Linked DNA regions of Homo sapiens. The protein of the gene in region 1 purifies or fractionates together with the protein of each later gene. This does not show direct contact. Each region holds a gene or a part of one and is shown in the gene's direction. Other genes may lie near its edges.

The links. Proteins that work in one complex are often made in the same cells at the same time.
Region 2: the proteins of TLE3 (region 1) and MYH2 purify together in Homo sapiens (affinity purification with mass spectrometry; 2 studies listed by BioGRID and IntAct, with this or other methods). This does not show direct contact.

Annotation. Positions count from the first base shown.
Region 1 is NC_000015.10:70,050,104-70,052,917, reverse strand, and holds part of TLE3 (transducin-like enhancer protein 3), read left to right. Parts: intron 1-393; coding exon 394-544; intron 545-1,450; coding exon 1,451-1,527; intron 1,528-2,570; coding exon of another isoform or gene 2,571-2,633; exon of another isoform or gene 2,634-2,707; intron 2,708-2,713; coding exon 2,714-2,814. UniProt on the Homo sapiens protein: Transcriptional corepressor that binds to a number of transcription factors. Inhibits the transcriptional activation mediated by CTNNB1 and TCF family members in Wnt signaling.
Region 2 is NC_000017.11:10,546,859-10,551,137, reverse strand, and holds the start of MYH2 (myosin-2), read left to right. Parts: upstream 1-1,479; 5' UTR 1,480-1,502; exon of another isoform or gene 1,503-1,579; intron 1,580-1,720; 5' UTR 1,721-1,763; intron 1,764-3,197; 5' UTR 3,198-3,217; coding exon 3,218-3,421; intron 3,422-3,519; coding exon 3,520-3,663; intron 3,664-4,279. UniProt on the Homo sapiens protein: Myosins are actin-based motor molecules with ATPase activity essential for muscle contraction.

The DNA of each region.
Region 1 (2,814 bases):
GTGGGCACCTGAAATGATCCCTCTAAAAGGCGTAGCCATAAACCCGACTCACAGAAAGCATTCAGTAAATGCCAGGGATTATTATTTCTTATTTGCATTCCTCACTTTAATATTTTAATCTTAAATTTTTAATATTTTAGTTTTTTTTTTTTAACTCACTTTTTTCTTAAGGAAAGATGAAAGTCTCAGAGACAGAGTAACTGAATGCAAAATGTCTGTGCTTTCTCACCTATAAAATGGGGATGGAAAATGACCTCCCATACTCCTGGGTTATTGGGTGGGTGGGGAGGGACCCTGAGCCTCAGAGGACCTGAGCAGCACCTTTGGGAGCCGCCCTCCTCTTGAGGGCAGAGAATGCTGAGCTCAGTCCATCTGCCCTCCCACCACCTGCAGATCTTCTCGCTGGGCTACTGCCCCACTGGGGAGTGGCTGGCTGTGGGCATGGAGAGCAGCAACGTGGAGGTGCTGCACCACACCAAGCCTGACAAGTACCAGCTGCACCTGCACGAGAGCTGCGTGCTCTCCCTCAAGTTCGCCTACTGCGGTGAGCCTTGGATGGGCCCAGGCCTGATGGAGTGGGGTGGGGAACCCAGGGCAGCCTGGCCCAACAGGACAGAAGAGGGGCCCAAAGCTTATAGAATAAGCTAGGCCCTGGAACCAGGCCTCCTGACCCCTGAGCTGGTGCCCCTTCAACACCCTTAAGTGATCTTGTTCCACATCCTTGTTTCTCGGATGCAGATGTCACCATGAGTTATTGAACTCTCAGGACACTAGGCCAGAGCCAGTTCTTGCAGGCTTGGGGCAAAGGAACAGGACAGTAGCAGTGCAGGCAGTTCCTCTCCATGGTTACAACCACTTGCTTTGGCATCTGAGAGCCTTGGATGGGAATGTCTGCTCCTCCACTGACAAGCTGTGCAGTCTTGAACATCTCACCCTCTCTGAACTCTAGTGGATTTTTCTCTCTGGTCGGGAATAGCATGGTGCTCATGGCTTTCAGGGAGCATAAGGGCTTTAACACTTGTAGAGCCCTGGCCGAGTTCCTGCTTGGAGGAAGGTCGCCCACTGACTGCTGTCTTCAGCCAGGTCTCCAGACTCCCAGGGCTTGGATATTTTCAGTATTTCCTGTTGCCTTCCAGTAGTAGAATTTAGAAAGGCCAGTCAACCTTAGTGGCTTTAACAAGAATCTTTTGAGGCAGCGTTATCACTGCAATGAACTTCAAATCCTACCTTTTCCCATCCTAGCCCCGCCCAGCCCTCCCCCTGGATTTCAGAGAAAGGCCTTCTCCAGGTGTCCGCATGTCCCATTTGCAAAATGCCTCTCGAAATTGGAGAGTTATACTAGTTAGCAGTTCTCACTGCTTTTCTATGGCAGCTGGCCATGTCTAGGGCAGGTCTTGCTTTAGAGGGCAGTGAGCTACAACCTGATCATGCCTTTGCCTCCCACCTGCAGGCAAGTGGTTCGTGAGCACTGGGAAAGATAACCTTCTCAACGCCTGGAGGACGCCTTATGGAGCCAGCATATTCCAGGTACTGCCCACCGTCTGAGTCCTCCTCTGGGTTCTACCCAGAGTTGAAACTTGGTGATGGTGATGGGAGTGAGGATAGCAGCAGGAAGAACAGGAGGAGCCTGGAGCCAGGATCAGACCTGCCCTGGTCCCCTCCCCACCCCTACCTGATAGGGGAGCAAGATTGGGTTCTCCCAAGGACCTGGGGACTTCAGCAGGACACACAATCTGCTACTGATGGCTTCTGACCCCCGAGGGCAAGGGCTTCTAAGCCGGGGCGCTTGTCGGATTTGGAGAGTGAGGAATAGCATAAGTGTTTTTGCTCTGGGCTGGATGCTGAGCACCTGCGGGAGGTGCGCTGGGCACCTGGGCACCCGGCAGCCTTGCCCAGAGCAGTGTTGCCTCCTCAAGTGAGTGAGTGTTTCCACCTGCATTCAGCACCAGCAGGGACATGGACAGGAAAGAGAGGAGGAAAGGAAGAGGCTTTTTATAATCTACCAGGATCTGGGGCCTGCCATACTGCACTGATTGGCACACACACGTGTGCACACACACACGTGCACTCTTTCCCATACACGATCAAACTCACACTCATTTACTCACGCACACTTGGTCTCCCCCACACACTTTCTTCCTCTCTCTCTCTTGCGCTTCCACACACACACTTGCATTCTCTCTCACTCCCTCAGCCAACATGCCGCTTTCTGGACCCAGGCTGAAATGTCTGGTGTGCAGCGTGTCAAACCTCATTGTTAGGGTCTCTAGTTACAGCACATGCTTCAAACATCAGGTGGCAATCCTTTTCCTAACTCATCAGGCTGTGGGCCTGAGCTGCTGACGCCAGCTCCTAGCTTGGAAATGCTTCTTCCTATTTGTAAACTCGGAGGAGAAGCTCTTGCTAAAGCGTCCTGTTCTGATCATTATGACTTACTGTAAAGATCACGTGGGAGACTGTTACTGAGCTTTTCCTTATGGAAAAGCAGGTGGGAGGGGAGCTCTACCTGAAAATGCTTCATGGGTGCTTTAAAGCCTCCCCCACCTCCTCTTCACCGCACTGTGCTCCAGGTCGGAGCATCAGAGAGGGGCAGAGGAGGGCAATTGTTGCCGAGAGAACCGAGATGGTGTTGAGCACTGGAAAATGAATTCCTGTCTTTTTTCTCCCTGCACCCCACGCCTTCCTGCTGCTTCTCCTCGTCTTCCTCCTCCAGTCTAAAGAATCCTCGTCTGTCTTGAGTTGTGACATTTCAGCGGATGACAAATACATTGTAACAGGCTCTGGTGACAAGAAGGCCACAGTTTATGAGGTCAT
Region 2 (4,279 bases), on another chromosome or scaffold:
GCTGGGAGGGTTGGTGTTCCAGGATGCCTGGGACAAGGCATGCAGCCCAGAGAGCATCCAGCCAGAGTAAAGGTGCCAGAAGGCTAAGTAGGTTGTACTGGAAGAGGTAGCCCACAGTAATAGCTCCAAACCTTAGACTTTGAATAGATCAGGTACTTGTGTGTATTTGTGACTGGTGTGCCCTTTGACCAATGCTGATGACTCCTTTAACCCATGAAGTTTTTGAAGATTAGAGCTTCATTATCCTTTGAAATATTTGATATGAAAGAGAGAGTTTAAATGGATTAAAAACTTATTTTCACTGTACGAGAATATTCAACATTATATTTTTCAATGAAGGAGAAAGAAGAACTGGTGAATTTTTAAAATACTCCAACAGTTGTAAATTACTTGGTTTTCCATTTTCATCCCTCCTTCTTGGACAAAAATCCCCGCTATGGTAATTATCAAGAACACAGATACTGTTTGTATCATTTTTGAAAATTTGATCTGGAAATTTGTGTCATATTTCAAGAATAAAGTCAGAAACAAACAAGTTTTATTTGTAGGATATAGCTCAAATTTTTCCTTAGGATTTTCAAGAAGATATTATTTGTAAGTTTCCGACATATTCAGTATTTAATATTTTCCTTAATGCTATGTGTATCATAGTTATTATATTTATATTACATAAAGGAATGTAAAAAAATTAAAAATATTCTCCCCAAGCCCTTTACAGATATAGACAAATCCCTTCCACATTACTCTAGCATGCTACACTAATATTGTCATTTTTTTCTCAGCGGGCTATGACACGAAAAAATGTTGAAAAGTACTCTCTAAAAACACCTCTGCTACTAGAAAATATTCAACCTTTTTTATTTCAGGCAAGTCAAATGGGTAGGGGGACAGGAAATGGTGTGCTAAGTAGAGGGAACAACTTTGGCAAAAGCAAAAAGGTGAGCGAGCAAGGAAATTCCTGAAACTACAGGAATATTGGAATAACAGAGAGGACCTTCTGTCTCTTTAAGTTGTTGAAGGCACATCGCTTAATTTTGCAGGGCTGGAAAGAAAGGACCAACAGGTAAAAATTAACTGTCACAAAATTAAAATACATATTTGTATTTTATTTATGTGACTTAACACGTGAAATATGCGAAAGTGATGCGAGGCAAGCCCGAATGCTGTGCCCAGCAAAGCCAAAAAGAAGTTCCGAGGGAAGCCAGGTATCCTGGCTGCCCAGCCACTGCCTTTATCCACCAGCTTGACTCTTTCAGATCATCTTCTCAAATTATCCATAGGAGATTTATCCACATACTCAATAAGAAAAATATTTCTAATTATATCCAACCATTCTTAATATGAATGAGAATTATGCGGGGACGCTAGATTGCCAAGAGGTATTTTGCCAAACAATTCCTTTTGACTTAAGAAAGAAGAGGCAGCTGCATTGTTTCCATAGCTATCCATATAAAAGAGCCCTTGGAATGAGGCTGACTCGTCCTGCTTTAAAAAGCTCCAAGGTAAGTGGGAGCAGGACGGGCCTTTCAAGAGGGACACTGGTCACACCGCCCAGTGTCAGCAGCAGCTGCTAGTTCTGGTACTGCTCCTTCTGGAACTGCACGTTTTACCTCTATGAATTTTGTTACTTCTGTTTACAATAGCAAGCCATGCCATAAATGGGATTTTTTCCCCCTCTTTTTGGTCAACTAATCAAGTGCTTTTCCCTTTTCTTTTATAGAACTGTCTCACTCCCAGGCTACATCTTCTCACTTGCTAACAAGGTAAGATTTGGACTAACCAGTTCCTGGAGGAGAATGCAAGAGGCTCTGGGATGGATTTCTGTCACTTAGCAACCTTTCAGAAAGTGCTTGTCTCAGTAAATACCCTTTAACAACTGTGCTTCAGGAAAGCGGTGAGAAAGGGAGGACTGTCCTTTCAGGACAATGCACACATCCTCATTTACGGCTCAAGCATTGGTGGGGTGACATTTGAGCAGGGGAATCGCTTTGAATAAATATATTGTCTGTGCAGGAAAAAAAGAGTCTACCCTCAGATTCCCTGGCTAAAAATCTCAAATTTGATAAAAATGTATCCTGCTGTTAGAATTCATTTAGTAAACATAATGTCCAACAATGTAAAATGGAAGTAAGACAATCCTTTCTTTAAACTTCTTAAAGCCCTTGTAAAAAGTCACCTTACACAATGCCGAGTGCTGTGGCATTTTTCTTATATATAATAGAGGTATTAATCTGCCCTCCCACTACTTACTGCATTTCTAAAGGGAGAGACTAGAAGAGACGATTCAAATGAGTTTCAAGTAATTTGATCATGTAATGACTGCGGTAGAATTATTTGCCAAACCTTTCATTCTACTGATACCACTGGCAACCTACAGATCACATAGAACGGAGCAAACAGGGCCTGCATGCTTCAAAGGAAAATTTGGAATAGTAAAGGGAGCCCTTAGATGTAGAAGAATGAGGTTAACGTTGGCTACTGTTTTTATCCCTAATTAGTTTAAGGGGGTTAAACTGATGAACTGTATTTAATATGCAAAAAATTATGTCAGAGAAACTATACTAAGCACCTAACCTAAAAGAAAAAAAGGTAAACAAAATTATAATCTCCAATAAGCCACTGAACTTCAACAAATCTGGCTGAACAGGTAAAGGAGGAAATAAAGTTCTTCTACATTACATTCAAGACATGGAATTTTGTGACATGATAATTCATGACATCTCATATATAAATGGTGGCCTGAACAATTTCAAATTACTTTCTCAGTCATCATTTAAACCTCTTTTTCAAAGTATCTTCACATATATCATGGGCTGTGAATTTAGAAAGGCAGAATTTATAATCCCTATTCTAAAGATGGAGTCACTTAGGCTCAAAAACATCAAGTGACATACCCAAGGTCACAAGCTACTTGACAGCAGCACTGGACTGTAATTCAGTTCCCAATGAGAATGTGAGTCCTGGAGGATGAAATAAGACAGTGGATGCAAAGCCCTAAATACGGCATTGGGTACACAGAGACCACCTGATGCATTTTCGTTCTTGTGATTATGTTTGTCTCAGTAACTATAGTATGGTGAACAGTAGACCTGTCTAGTGGAATTTCCAACTGGGCCTATGAAATACAATAAATATTAAGATTTATTGGTATACATGGCAATCCAGACTCTCTAATGTGAAAGTTTTATCTCCTTTAGGACCTCTGAGTTCAGCAGCCATGAGTTCAGACTCAGAATTGGCTGTTTTTGGGGAGGCTGCTCCTTTCCTCCGAAAGTCTGAAAGGGAGCGCATTGAGGCCCAGAATAGGCCCTTTGATGCCAAAACATCTGTCTTTGTGGCGGAGCCCAAAGAATCCTTTGTCAAAGGGACCATCCAGAGCAGAGAAGGAGGAAAAGTGACGGTGAAGACTGAGGGAGGAGCGGTGAGTAGAATCCCAGGAGCTTGCCACATTTTATTGATTTTTGTTGTTGTTGTTTGGTCACTCAATTAATGTAAACGGTTATCTTTCCTGTTTACCAGACTCTGACAGTGAAGGATGATCAGGTCTTCCCCATGAACCCTCCCAAATATGACAAGATCGAGGATATGGCCATGATGACTCATCTGCATGAGCCTGCTGTGCTGTACAACCTCAAAGAACGTTATGCAGCCTGGATGATCTACGTGAGTGTCCCCTGCCAGTGCTCTGTATAATCATCCTCATGTACCCTACCATCCTGCTTCTTCCACTGAGCATAAATAGGTCACAGGTAGTGACCCATTTCACTTTCATTGCAGCATAACTAGTTAAAAGGCTTCATGATTGCTATCGTAAAGCACAGCTCAACAGCCAGCACTTCCTTGTTTTCCCATCCAAAGCTGGGGAAGGCCGCTGTCCATGTTGACTAGGTTTGCCCAGAAACCCTTCAATAGGCATTTGAGCAGTTACTACTTATATTTCAATCACAGGTAATTTTCCCCATTCCTTTTCCCCACTCCAGCCGCAGAATCATCCAGAGTGAAAAGATAAACATGTTTTAACACTTTAAACTATTTTAATTTTTTTTTGAGACAGAGTCTTGCTCTGTGTCCCAGGCTGGAGTGCAGTGGTGCGATCTCGGCTCACTGCAACCTCTGCCTCGTGGGTTCAAGCGATTCTTGTGCCTCAGCCTCCAGAGTAGCTGGGATTACAGGCATGTGCCACCATGCCCGGCTATTTTTTTTTTTTTCGTATTTTTTTTAGCAGAGACAGAGTTTCACTATGTTGCCCAGACTGGTCTCGAACTCCTGGGCTCAAATG